6 linked regions of the Homo sapiens genome follow. The protein of the gene in region 1 interacts with the protein of each later gene in a pairwise test. Each region holds a gene or a part of one and is shown in the gene's direction. Other genes may lie near its edges. The genes, in order: BAAT, DDO, PDGFRL, MUTYH, MLH3 and BMP2K.

Region 1 (3,500 bases):
ATCTCTACTTTATTTTACTGCTCCTCTTTCTTTCTTTTTTGAGGTTTTGAGGTTTTGCTGAAGATATTCCTGAAGAATCATCCCAGGTGCCACACTAAAAAAATGATCCAGTTGACAGCTACCCCTGTGAGTGCACTTGTTGATGAGCCAGTGCATATCCGAGCTACAGGCCTGATTCCCTTTCAGATGGTGAGTTTTCAGGCATCACTGGAAGATGAAAACGGAGACATGTTTTATTCTCAAGCCCACTATAGGGCCAATGAATTCGGTGAGGTGGACCTGAATCATGCTTCTTCACTTGGAGGGGATTATATGGGAGTCCACCCCATGGGTCTCTTCTGGTCTCTGAAACCTGAAAAGCTATTAACAAGACTGTTGAAAAGAGATGTGATGAATAGGCCTTTCCAGGTCCAAGTAAAACTTTATGACTTAGAGTTAATAGTGAACAATAAAGTTGCCAGTGCTCCAAAGGCCAGCCTGACTTTGGAGAGGTGGTATGTGGCACCTGGTGTCACACGAATTAAGGTTCGAGAAGGCCGCCTTCGAGGAGCTCTCTTTCTCCCTCCAGGTGAGTAGAATTACTCTGCTTATTGTTATTCTTGTTTTTCCACTTTAAATACATTATCCGTCTAGAAATTTAGCTTGAATAGCTTGTAGAATTACTCTGGTTATTGTTATTATTGTTTTTCCACCTTAAATGCATTATCCCTCCAGAAATTTAACTTGAATATGGATAATACCTAGAGCACTGCTTCCTGCCTTACAATCAATGTTAACCTTGGGTCTGAACAAGAATGTGGTAATATTCTACTCCAGCTCAAGTTTCATCTCAACAATTCTGAAGCTTGTCTAAGAATGTGACTACATATAGTTTATGTAGTCCCTACATTATGGGCTTTACATAGCTTTGGATTTATGCTAAATTTTTCTGCACTGAAGCCAAGATGGGAGGATTAATAGAGGCCAACAGTTCAAGACCAGCCTGGGCAACATAGCCAAACTCTTTCTCTATAAATACTAAAAAATTAGCTGGGTGTGGTAGCAGGCACCTGTAGTCCCAGCTACTCAGCAGGGGCTGAGGAGGAAAGATCTCTTGAGCCTCGGAGATTGAGGCTGCAGTGAGCCATGTTCCTGATACTGCACTCCAGCCTGGGTGACAAAGCAAAAAAAAAAAAAAAAAAAAAAAGGATAATGCATGCAAAATGCTTATCATAGAACCTGGCAATACTAAGCACTCAAAGATGAACAAATGTTAGACAAAACTTTCTATGATCTGACTTCTGCATACTTCTTCAGCCTTATCTTATAGCTCTAATCTTATAGCTATATGAAGACCCTCATCTTGATGTGATGGAAACCATATCCCAGATCCTTGTACAGGCTCTGTCAGGTTGAGTTTCAGTTTAGGCATGGGTTATTACCTTGTTGCCACAACAAGCTGGAGATAAGATGGACTGAAAGATTGCAGCAAATATAGAGGATGCAAGAAACTTTGTAACCTCTAGCTTCATAAATATTACATATTTATAGACTATTCCATGAATCTAATAATATAGCATGCTTCCTAATGGCTATAAAACTTATCAGAACGCTCATAGTTTCCCACAGAAATCTCCAAATACCAATAAATAAGTGGTTTAAACATGTTTTGGTACATTTCTCAGAGTTTATTGTGGGGCCAAATAAAGCAAAGTTAATTTCTCAGAAGAAAAAAAAGCAATAAAAGCTTTCCTTTCCAAATTCACCATAACCCATGTACTTGTTCGGATAAATTTGAGTTTTTAAAATACCCAGTAAATAGCATATAGACCACTTTATTATGTATAGGGACCAAGAATTAAATGGCACAAATTGCTGTGCCTCTATTATCCCACCCCAGTTAAAAATCTGCTTATTGGTACAGGCCTTCCATCTTGGGATGATGTGCTGGTTTAGGGTGTGCTGTTTGTGAATCCTCTTGAACACTGCATGTGCTGGGTCTCCCGCTTCAAGTGTGTTTTCTATCGGGGGAACAAAAGAGAGCTGAGTTGTGTGAGGTTATAAGGAGGTTGAGTCAGATCACAAATATTTCATGACTGTAACATTCTTCCAAGATAAAAGACTCAGTACTTTTAAGTGTTCCCCCATTCTTGTCAATCAGATGGTAAAAACATCCTTATTCATTTATGCAAATGATAATTTAAAACTAAGATATATTCAACTTCACTTTATTTATTATTTATTCATTGTACTTAATTATAGTAATTTTTAAAAATTCCCAATACTCCTTTAAATCAAGCCACTTCTTTCAAATATGGATGGGATCACTCTGTCTTAGTTAAAACCACTTATAAAAGAATAGAATATCCCTAATAAGTGCATCGTAAGTTTCTTTCAGTGTGTGGGCTCTGCTTTATTTTGGAAAAAAGCTGCCTATACAGAGTGACTGTAGAATGATACTCTGGCCGTCCCTACTTTTTACCACGTGTCAGCCTGCAAAAAATGAACATGGCGTTATTGAATAAAGGGGCTCATCATTTACATAAGCTTAGGTGTAAGGTTTCATCACTGTATAGTCAAATGAATGTAGCAGAGCAGTGTTAAGTCAGGATTTTAGCTAATACAATCATTTAAAAAATGTTTTTGAATCATGTATTTCTTTGAGAACCAAATTAAATCTGTGGAACCTCTCATAAGTAAAATTCACCTACAAATATATATATACCATATTTTGCATATATTGTAATTTCAGGATCTTCACAGATTTCCTAAAGCTTATTTGTATACTTCTTTATAGGTTAAGAAGCCCTGGCCTAATTTATATGCCTTTCTTTACAACAAGAGTATAGAAACTACTGTGAATTCCCATTTCCTCAGCTGCAGAGAGTAAATATGTCTCTGAATGTAGTTCCTAGTCAAACGTCTAGATATTGTGTTCCATTATATATTCAATGGACCTTAATTCTGCCCCAGGTAGAAGGCTGAAAGTGTTGGAATTGTATTTGAATATTTAAATGTTAATTTCAAAATTACATTTGAATGTAATTTTGCATTTCTGCTTTGTGTTCTCATGTTTTTATTATCTTTTATTTATTTATTTTATCTTTTATTATCTAATCATTTGTATTTCTGCTTTGTATTTTCAAGTTTTCTTATCTTTTCCACACCTTCTCTTCATGTACAATTCTGTTTTGTTATTTTTCAGGAGAGGGTCTCTTCCCAGGGGTAATTGATTTGTTTGGTGGTTTGGGTGGGCTGCTTGAATTTCGGGCCAGCCTCCTAGCCAGTCGTGGCTTCGCCTCCTTGGCCTTGGCTTACCATAACTATGAAGACCTGCCCCGCAAACCAGAAGTAACAGATTTGGAATATTTTGAGGAGGCTGCCAACTTTCTCCTGAGACATCCAAAGGTAATTTTTGTCTTTTCAGTAGGTTTGAGTCCCTGGGGTTTTTTTGTTTCTGTTTTTGTTTTTGTTAAAAGACAGGGTCTTGCTCCGTCACCCAGGCTGGAGTGCAGTGGCAT
Region 2 (3,500 bases), on another chromosome or scaffold:
ATCAAGTTGACACATAAATTAACCATAGCAGGTCCAAACCAGGATTTCATATTGTCTTTAGTATTGGCTAACACTTACTTCCAGTCCACTTGGTGTGGGGCACTTAGCTAGGTCATAGGGATGGTAAGAAACATAAGATACAGTCTCTCCCCTTGAGGAATTCGTGATTTATTGATATCGGTCCTCTAAGATGTATTGTGATTGACGACTGTTCAAAGTTGTGGCCATTATTTTATTGTAACCTCACAACCATCCTGTGAGACAGGCAAGGGAGGTATCCTCCCCATGATGCAGATGAGGAAACTGAGATTTGAAGTGAGGTGAGTTGGCCAAGAGCTCAAAGCTAATGTGAGGCAGAGCTGGGATATAAAGCCAGGCTTTCTGATTTCACACCACTTCTCCTGTAGAACTTAGTCCATTCTGCCAAGCATTTACACTTCTGTCTGCCAGTTCCTCTGTCAGCCCTTGACGAAGGGCACTGTCACTCACACCCTTCTGGTCCCTCTTAGCAGTGCCCCGCATGCAAGCATTCGGCCTGCGTCTATTGAACAGAGCTGCTGATAGTCTCTTTCTCTATTCTACAAGTGACCTGTGAATAAGATTACATGTCCTGGGGGTTATTGTTTATTGGGTAGACTTTCCATTTTGCAAGATTAAAAAAGTTCTGGAGGCCAGGCACGGTGGCTCATGCCTATAATCCCAGCACTTTGGGAGGCAGAGGCAGGTGGATCGACTGAGCTCATGAGTTGCAGACCAGCCTGGGCAACATGGCAAAACCCTGTCTCTATCAAAAATACAAAAAAATTAGCCGGGCATGGTGGCACACACCTGTGGTCTCAGCTACTCAGGAGGCTGAGGTGGGAGGATCACTTAAGCCAAGGAAGTCAAGGCTGCAGTGAGCTGAGATCACGCCACTGCACTCCAGCCTGGGTGACAGAGTGAGACCCCATCTCAGAAAAAAAAAAAATATTCTGAAGATGGATAGTGCATATGGATGGTGATGGCGGTTGCACAACAAGGTAAATGTGCTTAATACTACTGAACTTTACACTTAAAAATCGTCAAAATGATAAATTTTATGTTAAGTGTATTTTACCTTGATTTAAATAAAGACTACAGGTACTGGATAAACCATTTCTTTTCACTATTGATATAGTTGGTCCAAAAAATATAGTAATTACCAACCACAGCTGCCATTTAGCTCATCAGCTACAAATATTTTGTGTTCTTCTCGTGCTAACATAGTTGTGGACATAAAGCTGGTGGGGATATGACCCCTGTACCTTTTAGTTAGGGAGACCAGGCTAATACAAAGGATCATGCAAGAGTTAACAATATGAGATAAAATGTTTAAGGTAGTAAATTTAGGTGTTAAATAAGTGGTATAAATAAGAAATGCTTGGACATTTAAAATACCAAATCAACTTGGCATTTATTCAGCATCTAGAATAATGTAGGAATTTTACAAAATTTTAAAAGGGCAAAGCATATAATTTCCTTTGTTTTGAATTTTCAAGTGGTTTCCATTTAGATTCAACTTTAGAAATCCCCAGTTCCTAGGATGTGAAGCAGTTGATGGCTAGAATTTGGCCTGACTGGGCCCTGGAAGCTCCTGAGGTGTTTGTTCATCAGATCATCACCTAATTTTTGTTCCTGGGTTCCTTTTCTTTATTTCCTGGAAGTAGTTGATCAGGTCGCTAACAAATATTCACTTCATGGCCTCTCTTCCGTAGGATAAAGGGAAGTGGAGGCTGGACACTCACTCGGCGAATAGAAGACCTGTGGGAACTTCATCCGTCCTTTGACATCGTGGTCAACTGTTCAGGCCTTGGAAGCAGACAGCTTGCAGGAGACTCAAAGATTTTCCCTGTAAGGGGCCAAGTCCTCCAAGTTCAGGCTCCCTGGGTGGAGCATTTTATCCGAGATGGCAGTGGGCTGACATATATTTATCCTGGTACATCCCATGTAACCCTAGGTGGAACTAGGCAAAAAGGGGACTGGAATCTGTCCCCGGATGCAGAAAATAGCAGAGAGATTCTTTCCCGATGCTGTGCTCTGGAGCCCTCCCTCCACGGAGCCTGCAACATCAGGGAGAAGGTGGGCTTGAGGCCCTACAGGCCAGGCGTGCGACTGCAGACAGAGCTCCTTGCGCGAGATGGACAGAGGCTGCCTGTAGTCCACCACTATGGCCATGGGAGTGGGGGCATCTCAGTGCACTGGGGCACTGCTCTGGAGGCCGCCAGGCTGGTGAGCGAGTGTGTCCATGCCCTCAGGACCCCCATTCCCAAGTCAAACCTGTAGATGACATAAAATGACAGCAAAGAGACTGAGAGACTGTTGATCAAAGCACAGAACAGGTTCAAATAACTTTTCCACTGCATGAAAGTTTAATTAGACATTTCTTTGTTTTCAACATTAGAAGTGGTGTAACATGTAAGCTGAGCACGGTGGCATGCCTATAGTCCCAGCTACTTGAGAGGCTGAGGCAGGAGGATTGTTGAGCCCAGGAGTTTGAGTGCAATCTGGGTAACATTTTTTAGAGGTGCCAGTTCCCACCTCTAAAAAAAACACCAACAACAAAAGAAATGATGCAACATGTAGGCTTACTTAGGAAGTCCAGCATTAATGGCATAGGGCATAAAGCTCTATTTTTTGTTAAAAATACTTCTTATAGAGTAAAATTTATTTAGAACTGATGTCCAAGGACCTATGCAGATTTATATGAATGTTGGAAGCTATAGAGATTTTGATATCATTTGGCTTATAAATCCACAGGAGGAGATAATGTATGGAAAACATTTAAATCACTGTCAATTGCAGAGCTGCCTGTGATCTTCTTAGGTTATAGCCAAGTCAGCAACATAATTCCTCTAAATAAAATTACATTGTGCTCACACAGTGCTGGATTATTACATTTAATTGAAGACAAAGCATGCTTGCTCCTAGTACTAGCAGCAAGCTTTTCCTCCCCTCAGCTGGTAATGATGGTAGGAGACAGAGATGAAGTTGCCTATGTATGTCATATCAATTCAATAGCTGCCTGGGGTCAAACACCTAGGGGTTGTACATTCCATTACTGTAAATGATTGAGAGCTGGTTTGTGGTATGGTTGGCTTTGCCTAAGCATTTTTGAAGATGAACAGCATGTGCAGCCAAAGAACTAATTTGCTAATTAAGGTGGAACAATCATTCTGAATGAAATATAATCAGAGTACTCCGCAGTTTGTTAAGAAGTATTGGGGAGGAGGGGAATGTGTCTCACAATAAAATGAGTTGGAATTGTTGAGTTAAATGAATTTAACCTGTTTTTTGACTCAGGCCTACTCAGAGCCTCTAATGTGTGCACGTGTATTGTGAATCCTCTAGAGAGCTTGGGTGGACGGAAAATGAAGTGCTGGTATTGAAGTAAAGAGGCTTGAGGAGGCTGGGCACGGTGGCTCACGCCTGCAATCCCAGTACTTTGGTGCAATCCCAGCACTTTGGGAGGCTGAGGTAGGTGG
Region 3 (3,500 bases), on another chromosome or scaffold:
TGAAGTTTAGGGGATGAAGTTCTCCAGCAAGGTTCAGAAGTCAGTAAGAGCTTTCAGGAATCTTACAAAGCCACCCTCGTCCTATTGTCGTCCAAGACATTTCAGGTGAAACCAGAATCCTTTGTTAGTGCCTGGGCAGGGACTTTCATGAAATTTCTCCATGCCTTGAATCCACCTACCTTTCAGACGTAGACCTAGACATAGGCCTAGACCTAGACATAGGCCTATGACCCAAAGGATGTTATGCCCTGACCATTAAAGAATGTTTTAGTACAATCTTATGTATTTGTCCTTTCCTGCCCAAATAGCTCCTCTCTGGCAAGGAGATGCATTAGTAGGGTATGCTGCAGTTCTGGAAGCACATGTATCTCATTTTGATGCAGACTTTTTACTCCTTAGTTCAGAGATCCAAGTTCTTGTCTCATGCCAGGAAAACTTAGGCACACAGACACTTAAAAGAGTGCGTGGAGTAGAATTTATTATGCGAAAAGGAAAGCTCTCAGCAAAAAGAGGGGTCCTGAAAGCAGGTTGCAGGTTGCTCTCCACACAATTGAATACAAGGGCTTCTATGTTCCCTCGGTAGGGCTGGGTTCCCTGTTTGTAAGAGGCGTGAATTCCTGGCGGCTCCACCCCATCCTTTCAGTGTACCTGCAGGCCCTTAATCTGAGTCACTCCACGTTGATTTATTTCCCTTACTGCATGTGTGTTAAGGGATGGAATTTTTCACTGGGGGTATGTTTAGGCAAGACCCCTGTGCACAATGACCTTGGTAGGTCAGAGGTTCTCTAAGGACATTCCCGTATCTGCTTAGGAGAGTTCTCTGCCTCCTGCCTCTATCAGTTTCATTCCACAACATCCCTGGGAAATAAGCAAAAGCTATTTTATTATCTCCAAAATACTAGAAGTACTAATGCTCATGCTGAGCCTCAATGTTCCAGGACCTGTAGTGGCACAATAAGGAGCCAAACCTGTTTTTCTGACCCAGGATCCAGTGTTTTTACTGCCTTGAACCTTTTGTAGGACAAGGTGAAGGATGGACTGATAGCCAGATTCTAGCTAGCATAACTGGTGTTGTCAGGAGAATTGCTAATAATTGTTCATAGGCAATCTCTTTGGATCTTCATTTTGGAACTCGCTACACAAGATTGTAAATGTGCCCTTTGTATTATACCATGCTGTGAAGCAACAGTGGAAAAAGCAACCAACTAAGATGAATAAAAGTCTGTTATTCAAGTCAATGACTGATTCCACATTTCAAGTTGCAGAAGGAAGATTCTTTGCCAAGATTAGCACTGTTGTGTCTTCCCAAAGTATTGGTCGAGGTTTTGAACTGCAGGCTTAGCTTGGGCAGAATATCCTATTAATATTATGGGCTCTTGGCCAGGCATGGTAGCTCATACCTGTAATCCAGCACTTTGGGAGGCCACGGCGGGCGGATCACCTGAGGTCAGGAGTTCGAGAACAGCCTGGCCAACATGGAGAAATCCCATCTCTACAAAAATACAAAAGTTAGCTGGGCGTGGTGGTGCACAGTTGTGCTCCCAGCTGCTCAGGAGGCTGAAGCAGGAGGATCGCCTGAATCTCGGAGTTGGTGGTTGCAGTGAGTCAAGATTGCGCCACTGCACTCCAACCTGGGCGACAGAGCAAGACTTTACCTCAAAAAAAAAAAATACGGGCTCTCTTTGAGTTTTGGAGGCGGAACCTTTTTGTTTTTTTTTTAACTGAACTAATTTTGGGAACCAAAGAAAAGCTAAAATATATTCATTCCAACTATCAAGAAACTTTGATCAAAAAAAATAAATGCTGTAACACATTTGACCTAATGTGTTATACATCATTTATTTTTTCTTATTTGTCAACACTAAGCTAGGAGTCCAGTTGGATTTTTACTATAGGGTTTGGCAATTTGTCTTTTCAAGCATGGATGGCTTTGAGAAACCAAGATGGGCTGTTACAGAAGCTGAGGTTCTCACTGCTGGCTCAGGATTCTTTCAGAACATGTGTTTCCTGGCTACCCATGTGGAGAAATGTTTGTCATTCATTATGTTTGTATGTTTCCTAGAGTTTGATTAAAAACACTGAAGCTTCTTTTGGGGGACTGACTGTTGTTAGTGTGCAGTTTGTGATTAAATAATTGCCGTATGTATTTCCTCTTTCATCTTGATCCAGGAGGATCTTGGAAGGTTTTCCCTGCTTCTCTTTCACTTCTTATTGTAGTATAACATATGTAAAGAAAAACATTCAAATTCTCAGAATACAGCTCAATAAATTATCCTTAAGCAAACAGGCACATGTAACTCCCACCCAGATCAAGGATGAGAACATTACCAGCAGCAGAGCTTTCTCATAGTAAAAGGCTGAGGCTCTAATTTTTATACGTAGGAAAACCACATTAATAAGTACTTTCCTGGCTGGGTGCAGTGGCTCATGCCTATAATCCCCTAGCACTTTGGGAAGCCGAGGCAGGCGGATCACTTGAGGTCAGGAGTTCAAGACCAGCCTAACCAACATGGCGAAACTCCCTCTGTACTAAAATGCAAAAATTAGGTGGGCATGGTGGCACACGCCTGTAATTCCAGCTACTCGGGAGGCTGAGGCACAAGAATTGCTTACACCCAGGAGGCAGCGAGTCAAAGTTGCAGTGAGCCGAGATGGCACCACTGCATTCCAGCCTGGGTGACGGAGTGAGACTGTCTCAAAATACTGAATTTGTTGTAATTTGGATTTAGTTTATAGCTTGTTAACTTGCATTTATTTATTTTTTTATTTTTATTTTTATTTATTATTATTATACTTTAAGTTTTAGGGTACATGTGCACAATGTGCAGGTTAGTTACATATGTATACATGTGCCATGCTGGTGTGCTGCACCCATTAACTCGTCATTTAGCATTAGGTATATCTCCTAAAGCTATCCCTCCCCCCCCCGCATTTTTTTGTTTTTTTGTCTTTTTTGAGATGGAGTCTCCCTCTGTTGCCAGATTGGAGTGCAGTGGCACCATCTCAGCTCACTGCAACCTCCGACTCCCCGGTTCGAGCGATTCTCCTGCCTCAGCCTCCCGAGTAGCTGGGATTACAGGCATGCGCCACAGTGCCCAACGAATCTTTGTATTTTTAGCAGAGATGGGGTTTCACCATGTTGTCCAGGAGGGTCTCGGTCTCCTGACCTCATGATCCGCCTGCCTTGGCCTCCCAAAGTGCCGGGATTACAGGCGTGAGCCACTGCACCTGGTCGAGTTTTTTTTTTTAATCTAAAATCCCATGTGTTTAGTTTTCTTTAAGTAAAACATTTGTCTTCTAGATAAGTGGATATAAATACATTTGCAGGGGACATGTGTAATCTATAATTATTAAAACAAACTTCAACACTTTGTTATTGTTGATGGAAGCTACGGATTGCAAATATATTTTTAAAGCAACTGGTTTGGTCACATTTCAAAGTATGTATTATAGTATAAGAAGTAAAGTATATATTATAGTATAAGAAGTAAGGCTGGGAA
Region 4 (3,500 bases), on another chromosome or scaffold:
AGGGAGCCTGCTAAGCTGGTACGACCAAGAGAAACGGGACCTACCATGGAGAAGACGGGTAGGCAGGCGAGGAGCAGGGACAGTGGGTGGGAGGCAGGCACCCAGCCCCCTCCACCCTAACTCCTCATCTGGGGTTGCATTGACAGGCAGAAGATGAGATGGACCTGGACAGGCGGGCATATGCTGGTCAGTACATCTCCTGAGAGCAGGGCCACTTTGCCTCGAGGCCCTTGGGTCTGGGGGCTGTGGGCCAGGTAGGGGCAGGTCAGCAGTGTCCTCATGCCAACCCCTTTCCCCCAGTGTGGGTCTCAGAGGTCATGCTGCAGCAGACCCAGGTTGCCACTGTGATCAACTACTATACCGGATGGATGCAGGTGACTCCAGGGGAGGAAGGGAAGGGTCATGGGTCAGACCCCAGATGAGAGCCTCTACTTTGGGGTGGGTGTAGAGAAGGCTTCCTCTACCACCTTCACCCTTGACCTTGTCTCTTTCTGCCTGCCTGTGGCTATAGAAGTGGCCTACACTGCAGGACCTGGCCAGTGCTTCCCTGGAGGTGAGAGCCACCCTAGGGTAGGGGAAATAGGAACAATAGAGGGACTGACGGGTGATCTCTTTGACCTCTGATCCTACCCACAGGAGGTGAATCAACTCTGGGCTGGCCTGGGCTACTATTCTCGTGGCCGGCGGCTGCAGGAGGGAGCTCGGAAGGTAAGGGGATGGCAGGAGGGTAGGAACCCAGGAGTCTTGGGTGTCTTATAATCTTGAGTCTTGCACTCCAATCAGGTGGTAGAGGAGCTAGGGGGCCACATGCCACGTACAGCAGAGACCCTGCAGCAGCTCCTGCCTGGCGTGGGGCGCTACACAGCTGGGGCCATTGCCTCTATCGCCTTTGGCCAGGTGATCTCACAGCCCACCCCCACTTTGTGCGTGCCCAGCCTCCTTCCTCCCAGCCCAGGCTAACTCTTTGGCCCCTCTGTGCCAGGCAACCGGTGTGGTGGATGGCAACGTAGCACGGGTGCTGTGCCGTGTCCGAGCCATTGGTGCTGATCCCAGCAGCACCCTTGTTTCCCAGCAGCTCTGGTAGGATGTTGGGGTAACAAGGGTGCTTCAGGGGTGTCTGCAAAGGAGCTCTGCTTCACAGCAGTGTTCCCTTCTTTTAGGGGTCTAGCCCAGCAGCTGGTGGACCCAGCCCGGCCAGGAGATTTCAACCAAGCAGCCATGGAGCTAGGGGCCACAGTGTGTACCCCACAGCGCCCACTGTGCAGCCAGTGCCCTGTGGAGAGCCTGTGCCGGGCACGCCAGAGAGTAAGCCTACTGGGGAAGGGGCAGTGAGAAGTCCTAAGGAGTGACTCTGCCCTATGACACTCAACCCTGTGCCTCTCAGGTGGAGCAGGAACAGCTCTTAGCCTCAGGGAGCCTGTCGGGCAGTCCTGACGTGGAGGAGTGTGGTGAGCACCAAACCTAGCCCCCACCCCAACCCTTCCTGGCCCAGTCAGAAGCCCCATTCCAGTTCTTCCTCTAACCTGAGTAAGATTCTGCAGAACCCGGCCAAAGCCCACTCTCTAGGTTGGCCCCTAAAGCCCTCTTGGCTTGAGTAGGGTTCGGGGATCTCCGTTCCCAGCTCCCAACACTGGACAGTGCCACCTGTGCCTGCCTCCCTCGGAGCCCTGGGACCAGACCCTGGGAGTGGTCAACTTCCCCAGAAAGGCCAGCCGCAAGCCCCCCAGGGAGGAGAGCTCTGCCACCTGTGTTCTGGAACAGCCTGGGGCCCTTGGGGCCCAAATTCTGCTGGTGCAGAGGCCCAACTCAGGTACCTGGATACTGGGCGTGGAGGGCAGTGGCATGAGTAACAAGAGAGAATGGAGGGAATCGGCAGCTGAGGCCTGACCCCTGCCTGGCTGCCCTCCCTCTCAGGTCTGCTGGCAGGACTGTGGGAGTTCCCGTCCGTGACCTGGGAGCCCTCAGAGCAGCTTCAGCGCAAGGCCCTGCTGCAGGAACTACAGCGTTGGGCTGGGCCCCTCCCAGCCACGCACCTCCGGCACCTTGGGGAGGTAAGTGAGCAGCGGAATAGCCAAGGATGTTGGCTTTTGAGGCTATATCCACAGGCCTATTTGAACCCCTTGACCCTTCCTCCAGGTTGTCCACACCTTCTCTCACATCAAGCTGACATATCAAGTATATGGGCTGGCCTTGGAAGGGCAGACCCCAGTGACCACCGTACCACCAGGTGCTCGCTGGCTGACGCAGGAGGAATTTCACACCGCAGCTGTTTCCACCGCCATGAAAAAGGCACTACCTTTGTTGTCTTTGTTGTACTTCCTTGTGTTTCCTACATGTTCTACATGAATATATTACTGTGTAAACAGGAAAAAAAGCATTTTTTTTTGAGACGGAGAATCGCTCTGTTGCCCAGGCTGGAGTGCAATGGCGCTATCTCGGTTGACTGCAACCTCCATCTCCCGGGTTCAAGTGATTCTCCTGCCTCAGCTTCCTGAGTAGCTCGGATTACAGGCGCCCGCCACCATGCCTGGCTAATTTTTGTATTTTTAGTAGAGATGAGGTTTCACCATGCTGGCCAGGCTGGTCTCCAACTCTTGACCTCAAGTGATCCGCCCGCCTCAGCCTCCCAGAATGCTGGGATTACAGGTGTGAGCTACCACACCCAGCCATGATTTTTTGTATTTTTAGAGATGGGGTTTCACCATGTTGGCCAGGCTGGTCTCAAACTCCTGGCCTCAAGTGATCCACCCGACTTGGCCTCCCAAAATGCTGGGATTATAGGCGTGAGCCACCATGCCTGGCCAAAAAAGCATATTTTAAACAAAAGTACTGGGACATGAAGTTAAGGGCAGAACACCGGTTTATCTCTTTTGCAAAAAGTGCCAGCCCTCACCTCCCTGTCTTCTTGTCTAGGTTTTCCGTGTGTATCAGGGCCAACAGCCAGGGACCTGTATGGTAAGTCTCCTAGGCCTCTCCCAACCGTGTCTCCCCAGGCCTGAGTCCATAGGTTTTTAGTCAGTTAACTAACGAATGTCTGGGTGAACATTCTCCACTCCAGGCTTCACTGGAGGGAGGAATAGTTCTTGACCTGGAGACCTTCCATTGTGGGGTGCAGGGTAGAGGGAAAGGAAAAAAATGATGAGGACTCTCCAGTGTCACAGGTGTGTGAAATGCCTGTACTGAGTTTTGTGGGATATGAATTGTGGAGCCATCAGTTCTTTTTTTTTTTTTTTTTTTTTTTTGAGACAGTCTCACTGTCACCCAAGCTAGAGTGCAGTGGCCCGATCTCGGCTCACTGCAATCTCCCACAACTGGATTAAAGCGATTCTCCTGCCTCAGTCTCCCAAGTAGCTGGGATTACAGGTGCCTGCTACCACACCCAACTAATTTTTGTATTTTTAGTAGAGACAGGGTTTCACCATGTTGACTAGGCTGGTCTCGAACTCCTGACCTCAAGTGATCTGCCCATCTTGGCCTCCCAAAGTGCTGGGATTACAGGC
Region 5 (3,500 bases), on another chromosome or scaffold:
AGATTGCGCTATTACACTCCAGCCTGGGCGACAGACATTTAGTTTTATGTTCATACACATACATATACTCAGGATGCACATTAAACTATCAAGAGTATTTACTTTGGGAGTGAAAATGAGGGTGTGCAAAGGAGATATTTCAACTTTTACTCTTTTTGTCTTTTTTTTTTCCTTTTTGTGGAGAACGGGGTCTCGCTATATTGCCCAGGTAGGTCTCGAACTCCTGGGCTTAAGCTATCCTTCCACCTCTGCCTCCCTAACAGCTGGGATTACAGGTGTAAGCCACCACGCCCAGCCCATCTTTTATTCTTTTAAATATTTTCTATTGTTTGACTTTTTAATAATATTTTCATGTTTTCCCTTTATAATAATAGAAAGTGTATATAATGAACTCTGCTAGGTTTGTCAATATTTACACAGAATCTCTTGGTGACCTGCTCTAATGAAACAATAATAGTTTGTAAATATATTAACTCATTCAACAAGTATTAATTGAGTGCCCATTGTATGCCAGGGACTGTACCAGGCCCTAGGGATACAATAATGAGAAAAGATATATATGCAAGAGAAAAAAATAATTACACAAACATAAAATTTTAGTTCTAGCCCCTGTAATGGAGAAAGAGATACAAGATGCTCTAAGAACCTGTATTGGGAGATTTGATTTCATCAGGGAGTTCAGGGAAGTGCTTCTTGGTAAAATGAGGTCTGAATATGAATATGAGTTAACTAAGTAAAGAAAGGAGGGAACAACCATGCAATTTGTGATTTATTCTCCTCAGTGAGTGGAAACAGGGCAAGGGGAACTGGAGATGAGGCTAGAGAAGTAGGTAGGAGTCAGATCTTAAATGCCAGCTACAAGCTTTGCTTTGTCCCAATACTGTTGGAAACCATTGAAAGCTTTTTTTTTTCATTTTTTATCATTTGTATTTTGATGTTGTTTTTGGGGTGGTACATGTCACATCACATTTGCATTTTAAAAAGATTGCTCTGGTTGTAGTGTGGAGAATGGAGTAGGAGTAGGGGTGGAGTCCCAGTTAACTGTAGATTGACTGTTAAAAGAATATTGCAATATCTGAGACATGGTTAGATGGGACCAGGGTGGACTAGAGAGCAGTGAATGTATTGGAAAGATATTTAGGAGATAGAGTCAGCAGGGCTTGGTGATGGATTGGATATGGGGAAAGTATGTAAAAGATGACTTCTGGTGTTCTGGCCTCCATAGCTGAGTTGATGATGTTGCAGGACCCGTGTTGCAGGCAGAGCAGAGAGGATGAAAATCATGAGTTCAGTCTTTGAAATGCTCCAGAAGAGATGTCAAGGTGGCCAGGCACGGTGGCTCACGCCTGTAATCCCAGCACTTTGGGAGGCCGAGGTGGGTGGATCACCTGAGGTCAGGAGTTGAGACCAGCCTGGCCAACATGCTGAAACGCTGTCTCTACTAAAAATACAAAAATTAGCTGGACATGGTGGCAGATGCCTGTAATCCCAGCTACTCGGGAGGCTGAGGCAGAGAATTGCTTTAACCCGGGAGGCGGAGGTTGCAGTGCGCCAAGATCGCACCACTGCACTCCAGCCTGGGTGACAGAGCGAAACTCTGTCAAAAAAATAAAATAAAAAGATGTCAAGAATGTGGTTGGATATTACAAGTCTGGCCTAGACAAGTGTTCTGACATGGAGATACAAATTTGAGCCATCAGATGCAGAAAAGTGATCACTGAAACCCTGGATATAAATGTTATCACCTAGAAAAAAGAAGAGTGAGGAGAGGTCTTGAATCTAGAATAATTCTAGCACTTAAGAGCTCGGTAGAAGAGGATGAACCAGCAAAAGAGACTGTGAAAGAACAGCTAGAGAAATAGGAAGAAAACAGAAGAATGTTATGTTGGAAAACCAGGATGTCATGCCAAACGCTGCCAAGACATTAAGTAAGATGAGGATCATCTGATTTTGTGACAGTAGAGATTAGGGATTTTAGCAAGTGAGAGCTGTTTCAGAGAATAGACAGGACGAGATGCTGATGGTGCTAATGGAGACTGCAAGGAGATACTCAGAAATGTGCCCATGACACGGAAGAGGGACTACAGAGGGTGAGGGTGACAGAGGACCTTTTTTTTTTAATGGGAGAAACTTGAGCACATTTGCAAGGGATGCCTGATGGGATAAAGTCCCTGAAAAGGCCTGAGTGGCTGAGCCCTGAGCAGCAGTGGAGGGCTGGCTCCAGCTTGATAGTACCTGCAGGCAAGTGCTAAAGTTTTAGAGCATTTATTCTCTATGTATTTCAAAATATTCCCTTTACCTTGTTTAGTAAATGTCATAGCAGATCAAAGGCAAATTAACCTAAAGTTCTGTCAGAATTATCATGAATATAGAATTTGTGAAGATCAAATTCCTATAGTTTTACTATTTCTAGAAAAGTAATAGTTTTTTGTTGTTGTTGTTTTTGAGACGAAGTTTCACTCTTGTTGCCCAGGCTGGAGTGCAATGGTGCAATCTCAGCTCACTGCAACCTCCGCCTCCTGGGTTCAAGCGGTTCACCAGCCTCAGCCTTCCAAGTAGCTGGAATTACAGGCACCCGCCACCCACGCCCAGCTAATTTTGTATTTTTAGTAGAGACGGGGTTTCTCCATGTTGGCCAGGCTGGTCTCGAACTCCTGATCTCAGGTGATCCGCCCGCCTTGGCCTCCCAAAGTGCTGGGATTACAGGCATGAGCCAACCCGCCTGGCCAATTTTTTTTTTAAGTTTTCATTATCTGGAATTCTTTGTTGTTTTTGAGATCAGAATCTCTACTAATGATACTCAAGATGGGTGTAACTACAAAATCTGCAGATGTTGAAAGAAGCAAAATGGATCTGTTGAAATTTCTCTTTTTTTCTTTACTTTTTTTTTTTTTTTTTTTTTTTTGAGATGGAGTCTTGCTCTGTCGCCCAGGTGGGATTGCAGTGGTGCAATCTCGGCTCACTGCAGTCTCCCCTTCCCGAGTTCAAGGAATTCTTCTGCCTCAGCCTCCCAAGTAGCTGGGACTACAGGCACCTGCCACCACGCCCGGCTAATTCTTGTATTTTTAGTAGAGACAGGGTTTCACCATGTTGGTCAGCTGATCTTGAATTCCTGACCTCAAGTGATCTGCCCTCCTCAGCCTCCCAAAGTGTTGGGATTACAGGCATGAGCCACAGGCCCAGCCAGAATCTGTGTTTTAATAAGATCCCCAGGGGGTATGTGATATGAACGTTTGAGAAGCCCAAGTCTAAGGCAGGATAAACATGGCCCGAGGGGAATCTGGGCATCACCTCTTTCTGTACAGCCAGGGAGATGGGAATGGTTTTTACATTTTTTAATGGTTGGGAAAAAAAAAGAAGACTATTTCTTGACACATTAAAATTATATGAAATTAGTATTTCAGTGTCCATAAATAAAGTTTTATTGGAACACAGCTACGATATTCACATATTGTCTATGGCTGCTTTGGCTCAAAAAGAATTGTTGAGTAGGCATGACA
Region 6 (3,500 bases), on another chromosome or scaffold:
CATCAGGGTAAATGGGTTTCTATCACGCCACTCATTCTTTTCTTTCTGTTAATGGTGCTGCCATCCACCAAGAGTTTTCAATCTCTATTTTTTCTACTTTGACCCACCCTGCCACCACTGTCATGTCATCTAGGCCACCAAAATCTCTAACTTGCATTACTATAATTTCCTTTTGCCTGAACTCCCCTTCTTACCTTCCCTTAGTCTTTTTTTTTTTTTTTTTTTTTTTTGAGACAGTTCGCTCTTTGGCCCAGACTGGAGTGCAGTGGTGCGATCTTGGCTCACTGCAACCTCTGTCTTCCAGTTTCAAGCGATTCTCCTGGCTCAGCTGGCACCTGCCAACATGCCTGGCTAATTTTTCTATTTTTAGTAGAGATGGGGTTTCACCATGTTGGCCAGGCTGGTCTCAAACTCCTGACCTCGTGATCCACCCGCCTTGGCCTCCCAAAGTGCTGGGATTACAGGGGTGAGCCACCGCACCCAGCCCCCTTAGTGTTTTTCTATAGAGCAGTCATTTTTTTTTATGTAAACCTAATCATGACACCTATTTTAATAATAGCTTTCCATTATACATGGAATTTTGAATTAGATGTATAATGAAATATACGCTGCTTATCATGGCCTTAGAGGACCTTCACAGTCTGGCCTTTTCCAGTCTTCCTTACCTCATGTTGTACCTGATCCTCCCTTGCTCACTATATTCCAGCCACAATAGCCTATTTTCAGCCCCTTAAATATGTCTTTATATATGCCATTGCTTTTATTGGAAGCTGCTTCCAGCTTATCCTTTGCATGGCTGGGCTCCTTCTCATTGTTCAATCCTAACTGTCGTCTCCTTAGGGAGGTCTTCACCACTGTCCAAAGTAGGTTTATGCGCCCATTTCCCTGCTGTCCTTTATTTCAGAGCACTAGTCACAATTTATGTTTACTTACAACCTCTGACTGTAAACCCCTGAAAGCAGAAACCATGTTTCTTTTACTCACCAATGTATAATCAGTGTATAGCAAAGTGCCCTATATTTCTTTCGTTGAATGAACTCAGAAAATGAAGTGACTGAATGGATTCTGAGCTAAAAACATCTCCAGATGGTTTAGATTTGTTTTTAAAGGAATCTCGCTTTTTTAATGTAATGTATAGATATTATAATTAAAGGAAGTCATATCATCTAGAGAAGGCAGATGTTTTTGGTACAGTCTCCATTTAGTATCTGGTCCTTAGCTTTGGTGAGGCCATTCATGCTAAGTCAATTCAAAAGATAGTGGTTTATAAAAAATACAATGCTGATTTAAAAAAATAGTGAAACAAATACGTAACTGAGCAGGCAGGCTGTTCATGCTTGTTGATCTCTATGGGAAAACTTTACAAGAGTTGAAATATAAGCAGGAGGTATTTGGTGAATGTGAAATCTGAGCTTTCAGAATTAGCAGAATAATGTTATTTTGGTGGTGGGGTGAAGAAAATTTGCTAGTCTACTACATTCTGTGTGCTATAAATAAAATTTGGCTGTCAGTGAGAGTACGATGAGGCAGGGTGTAGGGTCCAGATATGAATAAGTCTGTCTACATTAAGACTTAACTATCTACCTGAGGTCAAATGCATTCTCTAAGTCTAATGACGAAGAATTGACAACATTATTTTTTCCTCTAAGGGAACTCGTATGAGGGATTTGTAATGCCATGTGTAATACATATTAACATTTAGTGCAAGAGGATTCTGAAATGCATTGGAATGCTGTAATAATATTTATTTGAACTTGCAGGTTCTCCTGAAAAGAAAGCTGAACATTCATCTATAAATCAAGAAAATGGCACTGCAAACCCTATCAAGAACGGTAAAACAAGTCCAGCATCTAAAGATCAGCGGACTGGAAAGAAAACCTCAGTACAGGGTCAAGTGCAAAAGGGGAATGATGAATCTGAAAGTGATTTTGAATCAGATCCCCCTTCTCCTAAGAGCAGTGAAGAGGAAGAGCAAGATGATGAAGAAGTTCTTCAGGGGGAACAAGGAGATTTTAATGATGATGATACTGAACCAGAAAATCTGGGTCATAGGCCTCTCCTCATGGATTCTGAAGATGAGGAAGAAGAGGAGAAACATAGCTCTGATTCTGATTATGAGCAGGCTAAAGCAAAGTACAGTGACATGAGCTCTGTCTACAGAGACAGATCTGGCAGTGGACCAACCCAAGATCTTAATACAATACTCCTCACCTCAGCCCAATTATCCTCTGATGTTGCAGTGGAGACTCCCAAACAGGAGTTTGATGTATTTGGCGCTGTCCCCTTCTTTGCAGTGCGTGCTCAACAGCCCCAGCAAGAAAAGAATGAAAAGAACCTCCCTCAACACAGGTTTCCTGCTGCAGGACTGGAGCAGGAGGAATTTGATGTATTCACAAAGGCGCCTTTTAGCAAGAAGGTGAATGTACAAGAATGCCATGCAGTGGGGCCTGAGGCACATACTATCCCTGGTTATCCCAAAAGTGTAGATGTATTTGGCTCCACTCCATTTCAGCCCTTCCTCACATCAACAAGTAAAAGTGAAAGCAATGAGGACCTTTTTGGGCTTGTGCCCTTTGATGAAATAACGGGGAGCCAGCAGCAAAAAGTCAAACAGCGCAGCTTACAGAAACTGTCCTCTCGCCAAAGGCGCACAAAGCAGGATATGTCCAAAAGTAATGGGAAGCGGCATCATGGCACGCCAACTAGCACAAAGAAGACTTTGAAGCCTACCTATCGCACTCCAGAGAGGGCTCGCAGGCACAAAAAAGTGGGCCGCCGAGACTCTCAAAGTAGCAATGAATTTTTAACCATCTCAGACTCCAAGGAGAACATTAGTGTTGCACTGACTGATGGGAAAGATAGGGGGAATGTCTTACAACCTGAGGAGAGCCTGTTGGACCCCTTCGGTGCCAAGCCCTTCCATTCTCCAGACCTGTCATGGCACCCTCCACATCAGGGCCTGAGCGACATCCGTGCTGATCACAATACTGTCCTGCCAGGGCGGCCAAGACAAAATTCACTACATGGGTCATTCCATAGTGCAGATGTATTGAAAATGGATGATTTTGGTGCCGTGCCCTTTACAGAACTTGTGGTGCAAAGCATCACTCCACATCAGTCCCAACAGTCCCAACCAGTCGAATTAGACCCATTTGGTGCTGCTCCATTTCCTTCTAAACAGTAGATACTTCTGATGGATTCTCGGCATTAACTCCTGTTTCAAAAAAGTGTGAACAGTTTTATGAATTTGAAAGAAAATTTGGTAGCTCTTTATAGCATTCATTCTTAAAGATCAGTCAGAATAGGTGATTTCTAAATAAACCAAATAGAAGAATGAAGTATCTCTACAGGGTAGTAACTTGATTCCTCTTCAGGAGAAAAGGGAGCTAAATTGCAAGCTCTAACTAAGGGTTTCTGCTACTGACATCACAACACAGAAATGCAAGTGTGGTACTTCCAGTGAAAGCACATGGCACCTTTCTAGGTGTGTAGCCACTGAG

Evidence for each region.
Region 2: the proteins of BAAT (region 1) and DDO come close enough for resonance energy transfer, tested with the Homo sapiens proteins (one large-scale study listed by BioGRID).
Region 3: the proteins of BAAT (region 1) and PDGFRL interact in a two-hybrid assay, tested with the Homo sapiens proteins (one large-scale study listed by BioGRID and IntAct).
Region 4: the proteins of BAAT (region 1) and MUTYH interact in a two-hybrid assay, tested with the Homo sapiens proteins (one large-scale study listed by BioGRID and IntAct).
Region 5: the proteins of BAAT (region 1) and MLH3 interact in a two-hybrid assay, tested with the Homo sapiens proteins (one large-scale study listed by BioGRID and IntAct).
Region 6: the proteins of BAAT (region 1) and BMP2K interact in a two-hybrid assay, tested with the Homo sapiens proteins (one large-scale study listed by IntAct).

What each region holds. Positions count from the first base shown.
Region 1 is NC_000009.12:101,368,007-101,371,506, reverse strand, and holds part of BAAT (bile acid-CoA:amino acid N-acyltransferase), read left to right. Parts: intron 1-43; 5' UTR 44-102; coding exon 103-568; intron 569-3,184; coding exon 3,185-3,387; intron 3,388-3,500. UniProt on the Homo sapiens protein: Catalyzes the amidation of bile acids (BAs) with the amino acids taurine and glycine. More than 95% of the BAs are N-acyl amidates with glycine and taurine.
Region 2 is NC_000006.12:110,391,576-110,395,075, reverse strand, and holds the end of DDO (D-aspartate oxidase), read left to right. Parts: intron 1-1,733; coding exon 1,734-2,301; 3' UTR 2,302-3,292; downstream 3,293-3,500. UniProt on the Homo sapiens protein: Selectively catalyzes the oxidative deamination of acidic amino acids. Suppresses the level of D-aspartate in the brain, an amino acid that can act as an agonist for glutamate receptors. Protects the organism from the toxicity of D-amino acids.
Region 3 is NC_000008.11:17,622,216-17,625,715, forward strand, and holds part of PDGFRL (platelet-derived growth factor receptor-like protein precursor), read left to right. Parts: intron 1-3,500.
Region 4 is NC_000001.11:45,329,971-45,333,470, reverse strand, and holds part of MUTYH (adenine DNA glycosylase), read left to right. Parts: coding exon 1-58; intron 59-146; coding exon 147-186; intron 187-300; coding exon 301-374; intron 375-511; coding exon 512-553; intron 554-636; coding exon 637-708; intron 709-783; coding exon 784-897; intron 898-982; coding exon 983-1,080; intron 1,081-1,160; coding exon 1,161-1,305; intron 1,306-1,384; coding exon 1,385-1,448; intron 1,449-1,621; coding exon 1,622-1,810; intron 1,811-1,914; coding exon 1,915-2,051; intron 2,052-2,136; coding exon 2,137-2,289; intron 2,290-2,913; coding exon 2,914-2,955; intron 2,956-3,402; coding exon of another isoform or gene 3,403-3,405; exon of another isoform or gene 3,406-3,500. UniProt on the Homo sapiens protein: Involved in oxidative DNA damage repair. Initiates repair of A*oxoG to C*G by removing the inappropriately paired adenine base from the DNA backbone. Possesses both adenine and 2-OH-A DNA glycosylase activities.
Region 5 is NC_000014.9:75,034,468-75,037,967, reverse strand, and holds part of MLH3 (DNA mismatch repair protein Mlh3), read left to right. Parts: intron 1-3,500. UniProt on the Homo sapiens protein: Probably involved in the repair of mismatches in DNA.
Region 6 is NC_000004.12:78,908,850-78,912,349, forward strand, and holds part of BMP2K (BMP-2-inducible protein kinase), read left to right. Parts: intron 1-1,760; coding exon 1,761-3,184; 3' UTR 3,185-3,500. UniProt on the Homo sapiens protein: May be involved in osteoblast differentiation.